Linked DNA regions of Homo sapiens: region 2 is linked to region 1. A link means that fine-mapping ties the variant in region 1 to the expression of a gene that starts in the linked region. Tissue or cell type: whole blood. Region 1 holds a variant in brackets; the other region holds the start of a gene. All regions are shown on one strand. Distances are between the middles of the regions.

What was found. PIP is the estimated chance that this variant, and not a neighbour inherited with it, causes the effect.
Region 2: it holds the start of SGTB, and the variant in region 1 is fine-mapped to the expression of SGTB in whole blood (TOPMed, PIP 0.96).

The regions. Positions count from the first base shown.
Region 1 is chr5:65,667,918-65,676,184 of GRCh38, forward strand. It overlaps SGTB (small glutamine rich tetratricopeptide repeat co-chaperone beta), which reads right to left. Exons shown (of 11, transcript NM_019072.3): 9 at 4,327-4,364; 10 at 3,998-4,081; 11 at 1-2,440. The coding sequence ends at 2,329. Among named protein-coding and RNA genes, the nearest start is that of TRAPPC13, 47 kb to the left of the region's middle. The variant A/G (reference allele first, on the strand shown) is at 4,743.
Region 2 is chr5:65,717,183-65,725,182 of GRCh38, forward strand. It overlaps SGTB (small glutamine rich tetratricopeptide repeat co-chaperone beta), which reads right to left and starts at 4,927. Exons shown (of 11, transcript NM_019072.3): 1 at 4,735-4,927; 2 at 3,526-3,647. The coding sequence starts at 3,625. It overlaps NLN (neurolysin), which reads left to right and starts at 5,023. Exons shown (of 13, transcript NM_020726.5): 1 at 5,023-5,232. The coding sequence starts at 5,192. RefSeq lists silencers at 2,257-2,453, 4,498-4,547, 4,608-4,657, 4,728-5,337 and enhancers at 5,614-6,435, 6,208-6,287.

The sequences.
Region 1 (8,267 bases):
AAGATACAAAATAATTAGTCTCTTAGTCTCTTTTTCTTTTTTTTTTTTTTTTTGAAATGGAGTCTTGCTCTGTCACCCAGGCTGGAGTGCAGTGGCGCAATCTTGGCTCACTGCAACCTCTGCCTCTCAGGTTCGAGCAATTCTCATGCTTCAGCCTCCCAAGTAGCTGGGACTACGGGTGCCCGCCACCAAGCCAGGCTAATTTTTGTATTTTCAGTAGAGGTGGGTTTCACCATGTTGGCCAGGCTGGTCTCAAACTCCTGACCTCAGGTGATCCCCCCTGCCTTGGCCTCCCAAAGTGCTGGGATTACAGGCATGAGCCACAGCGCCCGGCCAATTAGTCTTTTGATAAGGGTTCTATAAGGCCTAATCATCTGCATTATTACTCATTTAATTGTATATTACTTCCTGGCCAGGCACAGTGGCTCACACCTCTAATCCCAGCACTTTGAGGGGCCAAGATGGGCAGATCACTTGAGGTCAGGAGTTCGAGACCAGCCTGGCCGATACGGTGGAACTCTCTCCATTAAAAACAAAAATTAGCGGCCAGGCACGGTGGCTCACGCCTGTAATCCCAGCATTTGGGAGGCCAAGGCAGGCGGATCACGAGGTCAAGAGATTGAGACAATCCTGGCAAACATGGTGAAACCCCGTCTCTACTAAAAATACAAAAATTAGCTGGGCATGGTGACACGTGCCTGTAATCCCAGCTACTCAGGAGGCTGAGGCAGGAGAATCACTTGAACCCGGGAGGCAGAGGTTGCAGTGAGCCGCGATTGCGCCACTGCACTCCAGCCTGGCGACAGAGAGAGACTCCATCTCAAGAAAAAAAAAAAAAAAATTAGCTGGGCGTGGTGGTGGGCGCCCGTAATCCCAGCTACTTGGGAGCTTAAGGCTCGAGAATCACTTGAATCCAGGAGGTGGAGGTTGCAGTGAGCTGACATTGCAACACCACTCTAGCCTGGCAAAAGAGTAAGACTCCATCTCAAAAAAACCCCACAAAATTTATATTACTTCCTTTTTCAGTTTTCCCTCGTAAAACTTGTGAAGTCATTACATGTCAGCACCAATTTCATTATTAATAAACAAAAAATATACTCTAGTTGGAATTAAACTCTCATCATCAATGTAGTTAGACCCATGCAATTAATACCTAATGCCCCTTTTCTCCACTAACTAATATGGCATCTAATTTATAATAAAATATTTTAAGTCTCCTGTTATATTTAAATTGCATCAAATTTAAATTATGTTAATTATAAGACTGGCATGCCAAGCCAAATTATCACAGAAGATTACATGAACAAGCAATGTTAGTGATAGATGCTTTTTGTTATCCATCAAATAATTACTAAGTTTTCTTTTTAAAAAAAATCAGTGTTTATGGGCACACAATTAAATACCATTTAGAAAATCCTTAACTTAGGACCAGGTCACTGGCTTAGTTAAAGTATATTTATATTTGATAGTTTCCAAGGTAAGGTTACCATTGGGGAAATTGTGATAATTAAGTCAAACAGTTGTACCACTGACCTAACCAGTACATTAAGGATTTCTAAATGTATCTTATTGTGTATTTAGCATAAGTGGCCATGCTAATATTATCAATACCAAACTGCAGACAAGATTAGTTAAGAACTATGCAGAAAACCTGAGCATCCTACCTTTACTTTCTATACATTCGCATTACCAATTTTTTCTTTTCAAAACATCCCTTGCATCAAGTGCTACTTTCTAACAGCTCTTAAGATTCTCTGTTCACCAGAACAAGCAACATTAAAGATAACATTGGTTCCCATGTTATATATTCATTACTAATAGCACTTATCAAAGCTAAACCTAGATAATATTCCTTCTTTCCTGACATACTGCTCAGTGGCAAGTACACTTCTTCTCAACCAGCATAGGAAACCTTTCCTTTGGGTCATTTCCCTTCTCAAAAAACTTTGCTTAAGGGAAATTGGAGCTAAAGAGCTTACCAACAAATAGCCCTACTAGAGTTCAATAAATATGCTTTGCTATTAAGTCTAATATACAAATATGATAGAAGTTTGAAAATGGAACCTTATCCCAGTGCTATATTGGCACGTAACATGGCTAGTGATCATTTCAAAAGGAGTCATGTTATGTTTTGAGTTTGTTTGTGATAAACCTATTGTCTAAACAGATTTATTCTTTAAGAATATACACAAGAGGTTTTCCTCCATTATTTTCACACATCAGATATGGTGTTTGGTTTTTTGAAGGAGGGAGGGGGTACTATCTACAACAAATACTTCATTCATAGCCATAAACCATTTGTATCTTGGGCTTGAGCCCCTGGTTAAATCAGGAATGCTCTTCAGCGCTGCTGCTGAATGATCTGCTCCGGATGTGATTTCTCAGTTGCTCTATAAGTTCAGGATTTTGTTGCTGTATCTGCTGAGCAAACTGCTGTCCCCTGTAGTAAAGAGGCAATGTGGTTTGAATAGGGAATTGCCAGTCACATTTACCCACGCAAAAAGAAATGCAGAAAATGTAGGAGCTACCTAAAGGGGGCTTTTTTCTATAAAAACAAGTTTCAGAGCCATGACTTTAGAATCTACAAGTTTACCAATGCCTCCATATAGCATTATTACAATGCAGTGTTCTTTATAAGAAACAAAACACCCATGCTAAAAAAAATAAGTACCTCAACTGGGTGAAATCTACTTCTCTAGTGCTAATGACAAAGAAGCAAAGGGTAAGACGTATATGTTTTTATTGTATGTGCTCAAATACAATGCTTTTATACCCAAGTCTTAATAGTCTCATATAACACCCAGTTTGGGATGCTTTTGGAGGTCACCTAACAAGTAATTTTAAAAACACTAAGAAGTTTAACACAAATTGTAGTATGTGACCCTCTATTGCCAGTGTTAGATGTCATTATATGCCATTTAAAGGTCATTCTAAAAATGCAATATTCTAAGTGGATACACAGTTGTGCTGACAAACAACAAGTGGTACTGTGGCTTCATATAAAATGTCCAGCGAGAGCATCAGACACAGATTCAAAAAGCAAAGTTGTCTTCGCCAATTTGATATAAGTGAAGGCAATGTGCTCAAGTAATGAGAAGATGCAAGTAGTTCCTCTAAGTGTTGACAGGCACTGAAAAAGTTTGAATAAAAATTTCCTGAATTGCCTGAACATTAAAGTATGTAACAAGTGATTTTAAACTATGTATGTGTACCTAAATTGATATATATTTTAAGAGGATATTTGACCTTCATCTGTGTCCCTGAGTAGTTTGAAGTCTGCTGAAAAACTTCCTGGATCTTCATTGGGAAAAAATGGGGGATTAATAGCTTTATATATATATGAGATCACAATTTATTTGGACATATGATTTTTACTGTTTGTCTCCATACCCTCAAAGTACCAGGTCACCAATCCTTGGGACCCTCTGTAAGCAGAGATACAGTATTGATACCCCCACTTAAAAACCAAGGACCCTAATTTCATGCTGACAACACAATCAAGTAAAATTAGGCTGCAAATGAAAAGACTGAATGTGCTATGGGTTCCTTAGTAAGTCACTAACCTGTACCTCAGTTTCTCTAGCCATTGGGTAGGGATATAAATTATCTACTTTTCTAATATCTGTCCCTCACCTGCCTTATTGAGATGGTGCCAAAAAAGAAAAGAAGAAAAAGATTCTGCTGGTACTTGAAAGTCCCAAAAAATAAAGCATAATGAACCGGGGGCGGGGGTGGGGGTGGGGGGAAGCATAATAAACATGGTTCTTTTTCTCAACAGACAGGGCTGGCCAGACTATCTAGGTATGGATTCCTGCCCTGCAGTCTAAAAAGTGGTTGTAATTCATGAACTTCTTTCAGATTTAGTAACATTAAGGAGGCTAAAGTTACTAACGGTAAAAGATAAACATTTAAAAAGAAAGCCCTGACCCCTCACCATAGAGATAGGCTGTAAAACATAAAATACATCTTCACTATTTCTGTTTTAAATAATACTTACGCTTGGATGAGGCTTGACAGGTCAGTTAGGCCCCCAACTCCAGCAGCAGGTCCCCCAATGGCATTTGTCATCATTCCTGACATTCTAGAGTACACAAGAAATACATCACTGGGATTGGTATATATTCTTAACAAATAGGACAACTGGACGAGGAAAAGTTAATAAAATACCCATGTTATACCAGAGGCTAGGCCAAATGTGTGTGGCTTTAAGCTCCAACTGACTGTCATTCAGAACAGTTTCATCATTTTTGAGCTGATGTGCTCAAATTAGGAGCCTGGCAAGTGGAAGGGTTGGGGAAGTGTAATAAGCTCTTTCTATATACTTACAGCTGTTGAACTTGAGGGTTCTGCATTAAACTTGCCGCCTGGAATTGAAAAACAGCACCTCCCATTAAAGGCAGTTAATATGTAGGGATCTTAGCAAAGATTTTTTTTTTAGAAGAATGAAAGCTAAATCATGTATGCACTAACATTTTGTAGAGTTTCAGTGTGCTATGCAAAGTAAAGGGGAATGTAAAAAGAGAGAAGGTACTAGAAAAAGTGGCATTAAGAAGACATGGTGAGGATAAAGAGATTACAAACAACACTATAAACTGAGGATGTTGACAGCAGTTTACTTACTACTGCTATCAGACCAATTAAGCCAAAAGGAAAAATAGGAACTTTAAAAGTATGGTTAAGGGATCTCCTACACTTGAGAAGGTCCATTCCAAACGAGCTTTTAAGAGATGTGACTTTGCTCC[A/G]TGGGGCCCAGCAATTTCAATCCTTCCCATGCTTACAGTGGCACAAGGAATTATATTTATGTGCACACATACTTTTAAAACATTCTATTTTGAAAGCATCACATTTTTTCCCTCAAATTGGTAATGTCGACAATATTTATGTAAAATTTGAATTTAGTCTAAATCTTTGTAGACAATAGATTATATTCACAGACTCTCTATGAGGTGTTGGGAAAAGCCACCACTTGCTTATATTACCAGAAAGATCACTGACTGATTCGTAAGTAATTCAAAACTTTCCTCAAGTCCCAGTCAGGATTGGTGCCTCTGAGCCAACCCATAAGTGCTAAAGGCATTACACAGGAAAAGCAGGATGTATGAGCTATAAACATGAAATGCTGTGTTTTGCAATCCCTTTAAACTAGTTCTGCAGCAGTAGTTCTTCCCCTTCTCCCACAATCTAGGACCTAGAGGAAATTTAGAACAGATCTATGCTTTTCCAGTCACTTTTCAGTAAGCAATCCTCCTGTCACTTTAAGTTCTATAAAATGACCTCCAGTTCAGCAATTAATGTCTCAGTGTAACAATCAAATACATAAAGCTTCATTTACAGGTAAAACTTCTCCCTTCCTAGCATGGGCCTGCTACAGACTGACCGGTTGTAGTAGAAAAGAGGCACCATTGACTGCTTTGTTTCCTATAGTAGCGGTCCCCAACCCCTGGGCCACAGACTGTTAGGAACCAGGCTGCACAGCAGCAGGTAAGCGGTGGGCGAGCAAGCATTACTGCCTGAGCTCCACCTCCTGTCAGATCAGCTGCAGCATTAGATTCTCATAGGAGCAAGAACCCTATTGTGAACTGCGCATGTGAAGGACCTAGGTTGAGTGCTCCTCAAGAGAATCTAACGCTCCTCTCCCCATCCTGCCCCTACCCCCTACACCCGGTATGGTCCATGGAAAAACTGTCTTCCATGAAACCAGTCCCTGTTACAAAAAGGTTGGGGACCGCTGTCCTATAGGGCTATTTTTTTTTTTTGAGATGAAGTTTCACTCTGTCACCCAGGCTGGAGTGCAATGGCATGACCTCAGCTCACTGCAACCTCTGCCTCCCGGAGTCAAGTGATTCTCCTGCCTCAGCCACCCAAGTAGCTGGGATTACAGGCATGCACCACCATGCCCAGCTAATTTTTGTATTTTTAGTAGAGACGGGGTTTCGCCAGGTTGGCCAGGCTGGTCTGGAACTCCTGACCTCAAGTGCTCCGCCCATCTTAGCCTCCCAAAGTGCTGGGATTACAGGTGTGAGCCAGCACACCAAGGCCTATAGTGCTTCTTTATCCTGTAGTACTTCCAGTCCTCTTCCCTCAGCTTGCTGATTAAGAGTTGTGGCCCTCCAGGTTGAGGGTTAAATGGAGGGAAAGGTGAAAGGAGCAGCAAAGTTCTTATTTGATGACTGGTATTATCTTACTAGTTTTGCATTGGTGCTTTTTGAGTTTGCAAGGTATTCAAAAACTACTGTGGTTCTCTTATGGGGTACTTTCTCATGTTCTTCAGACACTTCTCCTTTCCCTAGGCCCTGGAGATTTCTTACCTATTCTTTGAAAAGGGTAATTTACCCTCTGGATGGATGCTATGACTTTCCCTTCAGTCTTAGGTTCTTGGCAGTCCTCCAGAGATTCTCTGTGTTGGGATCCTGTCACACTTCCAGGAAAGCCTCTTGAACATATTCAGACACACTCTCTCACAATTGTGTGTGCTCACCTTGGTCCACAGGAAACACCTCTGCTCCACTCTCATCAGTACAGTAACTGCCCAAACCACACAGCTAATTCTGCCACTGGCTATCCAGTTGAACTATCAGGTAGAAAGTCTCTGTACCAGAAAAGCCCTTTCTCAGTGAGGGCTTGAGATGAGAGCAAGCCTCCCTAATTCCTTCATATAGGGAGCCCTAAAACTCTAATAGCTCTCTCCAAAAATCATGTTTTAATTTCCATCAACCTGGCCTTTTTTATGAGTCACAAAACATGTTTTTTATCCCCATCTTTTGCAACTCCTACATGGTGGTCTCACACCTTATTTTGGTACATAGCAGCTTGGAGCCTAAGCCAAATCTGAAACTAAAAGAATTCCATTTTTCACATCTTGTTACAATGCCATAACCTGAGTCCTAGAATGGGTAACCATTCTTAAAAAAAAAAATGAAGTCACAAGATCTACAAAACATGTATTTGCTAGCATGGTAAGAAGGCTGAAATTTGATAAGGGAAAAATAAAAACTACCAGTTGCTAAAAAGACTTATCTCACTGGGAATGAGTCATCTGTGCATTTCAGTTCAACAGAAGATTTAATGGATGCAAGACACATTTTTTGAAGGAAACAAAAGATGAATAAAAACTGATTCCTGCCTTCCAAGGGCATATCATGGATAGAATAATTCTCATCCAAAGTATACAGTCACCCCAGGAGCTTGATATGCCCTGGTAACATCCTAAACCCACTAAATCAAAGTTACCACATATTGGACCAGAGCGTGTATGTTCTCAAAAAGGCCCATACATTATTTTGTTGTTTTGTAAGAATAGAAGACAAACACATGAGATATCTATATCTATATCTATCTATCTATATCAAATAAACTCTAAAGATAGAAAACAAGGCAGACAATGCTGAGGGGCAAGCTAGGGAACCACAATGGCCAAATACTCAAACTGCAGATGTTAGATATCTTCCTAGGACCACTTTTATGTAAGAGAGTAGTTTTTAACCTTTCATATATTGGCAGATTCCTGTGCCAATCTCATGAAAAATATGATGCTCTCCCTGGAAAAATGCACACATACACATGTACACAGATTTTTATATATAATTTTGGAAAAATCCATGAGCTTCCTAAAGTCCATCCATGGCTTTCCCACAGGAGGTACATGGACACGTTAAGAACCCTGCCATTCAGCCAGAGAGAAAGGCCAGGCCACCTACAAAGGGAAGCCCATCAGACTAACAGCAGATCTCTCAGCAGAAACCCTATAAGCCAGAAGAGATTGGGGGCCCATATTCAACATCCTTAAAAGAATTTCCAACCCAGAATTTCATATCTGGTCAAACTAAGCTTCATAAGCAAAGGAGAAATAAGATCCTTTTCAGACAAGCAAATGCCGAGGGAATTCATTACTACCAGACCTGCCTTACAAGAGTTCCTGAAGGAAGCACTAAATATGGAAAGGAAAAATTGTTACCAGCCACTACAAAAACACACTGAAGTATACAGACCAGTGACACTGTGAAGCAACCACATAAGTTTGCAAAATAACCAGCTAGCATCATGATGACAGGATCAAATTTACACATAACAATACTAACCTTAAATGTAAATGGGCTAAATGCCCCAATTAAAAGACACAGAATGGCAAACCAGATAAAAAAACAAGACCCATCAGTGAGCTGTATTCAAGAGACCCACTATACATACAAAGACACACATAGGCTCAAAATACAGGGATGAAGGAAAATTTACCAAGCAAATGGAAAACAGAAAAAAGCAGTGGTCGC
Region 2 (8,000 bases), 49 kb after region 1:
AGATTGAGGCAAAGGCTTAATCAGAATGGGTTTAAGAAGAATAGAAGGAGAGGAGTTGGAGAAAGCAAGTATAGACCATTCTTTCAAATGGTTTTGCTGCAAAGGGAGACATACAATTAAGCAGTAATTATTTGCTGTTTGTTTTTGCTTTTTTGAAGAAGGGAGAATAATGGTAAGTTTATATGATGATGGAAATGATCCAGTAGGGTATGAAAATTTTATGATGTAAGATTAAAAAAATAAAATAACTAAAGTGATATCCTGGAGTAGGTGAGACAGGATGGGATCTAGTATACCAGTAGAGGGGTTCCATTTAGAAAGGAACATGAATAGTCCATCTATGGTAATAGCTAGTCAAACAGGCAGGCAGGCCGAGTATGTGGGTGCCATCATATCCAGCTATTTTCTTATTATTTCAGCTTTCTTGGTGGAGTAGAAAGCAAGGTAACCAACTAAAAGTGAGGACAGTGAAGGAGGTTTGAGGGTTTGAGAAGATATGAGAAAGTGTTAAAATGGTCATCTAGGAAAATAAATGTATGAATGAACTTAGAACAGATACTGTGATTGCCTGACAGCATTAAAGGTCTACTTGAAGTTCACAGTCATGAATTTAAAGTGGGACTAGTCAGCAAAGTTGTGTGTTTTGCTCCATTTATTTACGGCTACATGAGTGGGTGTGAGTAGTTGGGCACAAAGTAGGTGGAGAGTTGGATTTAAACAAAGTTGGGCTTTGCAAGAAAGGGAAGGAGATACAAGGGAATAATTATAATTATCAACCATGGAATTTAAGATGAGTAAGAAGAGGTGTGGGGAAAGGTGAGGCATGAACAGATTGGAGGTACTGGTTGGGTCAAAGAATAGCTGGAGTAGGGATTCTAGAGGGAGTAATCTTGGAAAGACAGGCAATAGTGGTCAGGAAGTGAAATGTTTGGGATAGAGATTAGGGAAGGAATGCAATTCTGGTAATGATTAAGTCTAGGGAAGGCTTTCTCAATCTCCGCATACTGACATTTTGGATCAGGTAATTTCTTCTTGTCAGGGGCTGTCCTGTGCATTAGCAGCATCCATGGCCTCTACCTACTCACTAGATGCCAATAATACCAGCCACCCGCCTCACCCAGTTGTGACAATCAGAATGTATCCAGATATTGCAAAATCACCCCCAAGTTGAGAACCACTGATCTAGAATATGATCAAGTGTTTGAGATCACTGGATGAGGTCAATAACTGAGAGCCAGGGAACTAAAATAATCATCAATCAGTATATTGCAATTGCCAAGAACTAAATAGGAGTAGTGCTAGAGAGAGTGACAGTGAGCAGGAACCACAATTAGTCAAGGAATGAAGCAAATGTCAGTAGATGACAATAATTAAGAGGAGTGGGTGACATAATCTGATGGCAAGACAAAGCTGATGATATACCAGCTTCACAGTAGTGGTAAAGCTGGTATTAGAACTGAGGCTTCTTTCCTAGGGCTTTTAAAAATGTCTAGAAGGTGGGCAGACACCTCCACATGATTTCATGTTCAATTAAATTAGACTCACAGAGTCAAAAATAGGGGTCAGTCAAAAACAATTGGCACCCTTTCTGACTGCCATATATAACAAACAGCTGAAGGCACATATTTTTGGCTGAATACCATCCTAAAAATAGGACATAACATCTTGGTTTGAAAAAAAAACCCTCAATTTTCTTTCTGGCCCTTAAAACTTTTATGCTGCTTTTGATTAGAAAAGAAACATCTTTTCTTAAATGACTGCATTTATCTGTTTGCTACAGAGCAATCATAACTAACATTCTCCTTAGATAACCAATCAACTTTATTTTCACATAGTCTAATCATCAAGGAGAACAAAAAGACCTTAATATTAAATGGACTGATTGCAATGTTCTCCAACTGTGCATCACCTGCTCCTCTCACTGCCACCTGGAAAGACATCAACTAACCAGACTGCAAGGAGGTTTAGAGCAAATGCCCAATTTTCATCTCCACCTCCTAAAAGCATATTCACAGGGAAATGCTTGTTGAAATTATAGAAGCAGTTTCAAGATGGGATTTATAACTATACTGTCATTTATTAAGTTCTTCCAAATGCACTCTCACTGCAATAATTAAGACTTTGGGGCTGGGAGGGGTGGCTCATGCCTGTAATCTCAGTACTTTGGGAGGCCAAGGCGAGTGGATCACTTGAGCCCAGGAGTTTGAGAACAGCCTGGGCAACATGGCGAAACTCTGTCTCTACAAAAAAAAATACAAAACTTAGCCGGGTGTGGTAGTGTACTCCTGTAGTCCCAGCTACTCAGGAGGCCGAGGTGGGAGGATCAATTGAGCCCAGGAGGTGGAGGTTGCAGTGAGCCGAGATTGTGCCACTACACTCCAGCCTGGGTGACAGAGCCAGACAGACCCTGTCTCAAAAAATAAATAAATAAATAAAAGACTTTAGGCCACAGGGACACCAGATTCACTGAACCTCCACAAGCCCATCTGCAGAATTCTACCTTGTTATGGTTGTACTGAATTTAAATTTTATAACACATAAACATGAAGAACAAAGACGGTGTCGAGGAAACACATGATGCTATCACCCACATCCTGTTCAACTTTACAGATTACCGAATCCAATATTAAAGTTAACGTAAAACACAGGTGAAATGCTCCCATTTCAAGTTCCAAATTAGGCACTGGTCAGATCTCACTAGTGGTATAATTATTAGACTTTTACATAGTGCTATTAAAATGACTCAGGTATTTTTATATATTATTTCTAAACTGGATGCTTTCCTATTAGGAAATGGAGACAACAAGATCTTCAGAGTATTAACCAGGATTTAAATCTCAGCTTTATCACATATCAGCTGTGTTATCTGCTTACGCTATTTGGTTTCATTTTCTTTTTCTTTTTTTTTTTTTTTTTTTGAGATAGGGTCTCGCTCATGGCCCAGGCTGGAGTGCAGTGGTGTGATCTCAGCTCACTGCAACCTCCACCTCCTGGGTTTAAGCCACCCTCCTATCTCAGCCTCCTGAGTAGCTGGGACTACAGGCAAGTGCCACCACACCTGGCTACTTTTTGTATTTTTAGTAGAGACAGGGTTTTGCCATGTTGCCCAGCCTGGTCTTGAACTCCTGACCTCAAATGACCTACCTGCCTCGGCCTCCCAAAGTGCTGGGATTACAGGCATGAGCCACCAAGCCTGGCCCTGGTTTTATTTTCTCACTTGTTAAATGGGGATAATACTAACATAACAGTTGCTGTGAAGAAAAAATTGCCTATAATATGAACAGCATACTTCTGACATATAGTATTTGTTCAATAAATGAACAATAGTCCTCTTAATTTGTTGTTAAAACAAACAAAACAAGCTTCAGAAAATGGAAATACGATAACCTTATAGTCAGGCCTCTCCTCTTGAAAGATCAAAAAAAATTCTGATTATGTTACAATAGATCATCAAGTTGGGCTTACAGCTATTTTAGTCTTCGTTTATAATTATAATATAAATGAACACAAAGAGCAGATGCATACCTTCCAAACTTTCTTGTTCATCCGAGGTGTAAGTGTCCATCTGACTTTGTTCCCGTAAGAAACGAATAACTGCATAAACCAGGTGCTTGATAGATGACATTTTAGAAGCTTAAACACTTTTCCTTGATAAGAAAAATGAAAACACTGAACTAAGTTATTTTAAAGAATCAGTCAGGAAAGTCATAAATTACAAAGATGATATGGGTTATAAAGTGTATTAAAGGTAAAAACAAAACACAAAACTGTATGACCTTTCATCTTTTCTCTTTGTAAAGAGTCAGGAGAGCACAAAGTATTGTGAAGGTAATTTATTACATATTTTCATTAATACCCAGTGGTATACGAGTATGTTAAATCTTGGAATAAGTAAAAATGTCTTCAAAACATGTACAGCATAAGCTTAGACTGTCACTGCATATCTCACCATACAGAAATCCCCTAAAGGCCTCAGTACTAAGTTAAGAGGCATTTCATACTGCTGACTAAAAGCTGATGTATACCAAGCATCTTCCTCTTTTTCATGGGATCTAAAAAAAGTATTAATAATGTACACTCTACCCACTTTTGTAGGTTGAGAGTTATTTGATGAGGAAACACATTCGCGAAAGGTTATTCAAGTGGTGAGTGTCGTTCTTAATAAAAATGGCATTTCTATTTAATCAGCAGACATGTCAGGAAATCGCTGCCCAAGTCGATGGATACTACAAGCCGACCGGCGCTCCCTGCAGAGGCTGTGCTCTCGTGGACAAGCTGGAAGCTCCCGGTCATGTTCATTCACATGGAATACTATCGCATCCAAACAGTGGCGCAGGGCCAGGCGGCATTCATGGCTGATTTCCACCAAATCGCATCATCCATCTGCTCCCCAGGTTCCCTAATTCAAAGCCAGGGTGTGGTACCCGCCGCTATAATGTTTATTATTTGTGTAGTTATTTTAAAGGCGATGTCAGCCTCTAGGCCACGGGGTCATAAGCACTAAATAAGGCCCCAGGGCAGAAGGTAAAAACAGAATGGGGGGAAAAGGGGTGAGAAGAGGGAAATAGGCTTCTCCCCCTTCCTCTCCCCAGAGCGCATCGAGCTCCCCCTCCCTTCCGTCCTCCCTCAGGTACCCGGCCTCGCCTCGGCCCTGCCCGGTGTGCAGCGGGTGCCGGTGCGGGCCCCGGTCCGGAGCGGCGGGAGGCGCACCCTTGCCAGACAGAAGCCCCTTACCAAGCAGGAGGACGCGAGACGACTGCTGCTGGCCCGCGGGGTTCCGTAGGCAGGCCCGCCCGACCCCTGGTCCTCGGGGCTGGAGCCCGGCTCGGGATCGCAGCACTGGTCGCGGCGGCGCAAACTTCCCCGGCCCCTAGGCCGTAGACCCCAGAACCCACCAGGCTGTGCTCTCTCTCAGGCGGCAGGGTCTGGCCAGCACCGCCCCTGGGGCGGGGCCGGACGCGAGGGCTGGGGCGGGGCCAGACACGCGAGCTGGGGCGGGGCACGGCGCGGGGCGGGGCTGGTAGGCGCCGGCGTGGAGCTGCCGCACGTGGGAGGGCGCTGGCCAGGCAGCCACTGTGGCCTCTGCGGCTAGGCCGGCTCGAGACTCCCGGGCGCCCAGGCGCTGCCGCCCGCCTCGCCGCCCCACGCCGAAGGACCACGCGCCCGCCGCCGCCAGCCTCTCAGCGCTCCCATGATCGCCCGGTGCCTTTTGGCTGTGCGAAGCCTCCGCAGGTACCTCCAGCGCGCGGGTTAACCTTGGCCGTGGGCAGGGCGGGGTCTTTCGCCGTGTGGTGCCTGGAGCCCGGACCCACCCCTTCCCGACCGCGCCTCTCCGACGCTCCCGGGACGCACCCTCCCCGCGGCTTGCAAGGTGGACCCCTGGGGGACACCTGGCGCGGCCACCTGGGGCCACCTTTCCCGCCTCCGCTCCCTCGGGAGGACGTCCATTCCTCTTTGTTTGGGACTGCCTCAGCCGCAGTCAGCGAGGCTGGTCACAGACGCGGCCCAAAATGAATGCAAATAGTTTGGATAAGAAAATCATTTCACGTTCAATCCCAATGCAGAACTACAGACCTGTCATTAAAAGTGCCGCAGCTGTGGACTCAGAACAATTGTGTTTGCTCCTCGCGCCCATTATTAGCATTCCAATCGTTTAACATCCACCCGAGATGAAACCTCTTTGGTGGTGTTGCTTGTTTCCGTCCATGCTCTCTGACTTCCTTTTTTATTTTCCTCCTCCCCATAAAACAAACATTCTGCCTCTTGCCGGTGCAAATTGACTTGGCCCAAAATGGAGAAAATGATCGCTTGGACACGGCTTTGGGCAGCCTGAGCTGCTGTTTTGGATTGCTTCCTAGCCCTCTAACCACACCCCACTGCAACAGACCAGTAGCAAGATGGTGAGGGAATTAAATTCTTTGCACGGATGCGCTGGTTTTCGGAAACAATGCCGCCACCATCCCCGTTTCCAAATCTGCCCAGAACTGTAAATCCAAATGAAGATTCAACAGAATAAAGAAAATGTGTGCTTCTTGCTAGCTATCAACAAAACTACTTTGTAACATGTCAGCATTTAAGCTTTCTACAGTTCCCTTTTGCACATTGCCACTCGTCTGTGTGGATGGAGCTTTGTGTTGCTCAGTCCGTAGAGTTAGGGAGCAGGCAGGCGACAGTGGTTAATTACAAAGAGTTAATGTGGTGATTGGTGACCATATTTCAGCCTGTCGTTTTTTGCTAGTCTCCAGGCTGCAATCGATATAGCTGTCAAATGAAGTTATACCAAGAAATGAAGACTTCACATAATGCAGGGGTGAGAGGAGGGAATAAATCTTCATATAAGAGCAATTCTCGGCCGGGCGCTGTGGCTCATGCCTGTAATCCCAGCACTTTGGGAGGCCGAGGCGGGTGGATCACGAGGTCAGGAGATCGAGACCATCCTGGCTAACACGGTGAAACCCCGTCTCTACTAAAAAATACAAAAAATTAGCCGGGCGTGGTGGCGGGCGCCTGTAGTCCCAGCTACTCGGGAGGCTGAGGCAGGAGAATGGCATGAACCCGGGAGGCGAAGCTTGCAGTGAGCCGAGATCGCACCACTGTACTCTAGCCTGGGCGACAGAGCAAGACTCCGTCTCAAAAAAAAAAAAAAAAAAAAAAGAACAATTCTCAAACTTTTTATTCTCAGGACCCCTTTACCTTTCAAAAATTACCGTGGACCTAAGAGCTTCTGTTTGTGTGGTATATCTGTCTATATTTACCATATTAGACATTAAAGCTGGAAAAAAATTAAAGTAGTTGTTAATTTACAAAACTAATAAATAGGCTAGGTGCATAAATAGTGATTTTAATGAAAAATAACTATTTTCCAAACCAACCCCCCCGCCCCCCAATCAGTGAGAAGATTAACATTGTGGGGTTTTTTCCCTTTTTTTTAAAATTGTGGTAAGATATAACAAAATTTACCATTTTGATAATTTTTAAGTGTACAATTGAGAGGTACAGCCAACACCACTGTCCATCTCCAGAACTTGTCATCATCCCAAACTGAAACCCTGTACCTATTACACAATAACTGCCCATTACTTCCTCCCCCAATCCCTGGTTAACCATTATTTTTTCTCTATGAATTTGAGTATTTCAGGTCCCTTATATAAGTGGAATTAGACAATATTTGTCCTTTTGCGTCTGGTTTATTTAGTATAGCGTTTTTAAGGTTTATTCGTTTTGAAGCATGTGTCGGGATTTCCTTTTTAAAACTGAATAATATTTCATTGTATGTATATACCACATTTTGTTTATCCATTTGTCAGTGGACATTTGGGTTGCTTCCACCTTTTGGCTATTGTGAATACTACTACTATGATCATTAATGTGCACATGTCTGTTTGAATCCCTGCTTTTAATTCTTTGGGATACTGTATGTACCTAGAAGTGAAAATTGCTGAGTCATAGGATAGTACTATGTTTAGTTTTTGAAACCATACTGTTTTCTTCAGTGGCTGTACCATTTTTACATTCCCATTGGCAGTACCTAAGGATTCCAATTTCTCCACATCATCATCAGCACTTATTTCCTGGTTTTGATAACAGTTATCCTAGGAGTGGCATTGTTTCTTTTTTTTTTCTTTTTTTTTTTTTTTGAGACAGAGTCTCTCTCTGTCGCCCAGGCTGGAATGCAGTGGCGCTATCTCGGCTCACTGCAAGCGCCGCCTCCCGGGTTCACGCCATTCCCCTGCCTCAGCCTCCCAAGTAGCTGGGACTACAGGCGCCCGCAACCACGCCCGGCTAATTTTTTTTTTTTATTTTTAGTAGAGACGGGGTTTCATCCTGTTAGCCAGGATGGTCTCGATCTCCTGACCTCGTGATCCGCCTGTCTCGGCCTCCCAAAGTGCTGGGATTACAGGCGTGAGCCACTGCGCCCGGCAGAAGTGGCACTGTTTCGCATTTTTGCAAAACTAATGTGTGACATAATAGAAGGTAACTGGATTCTTATGTCTGCCTCT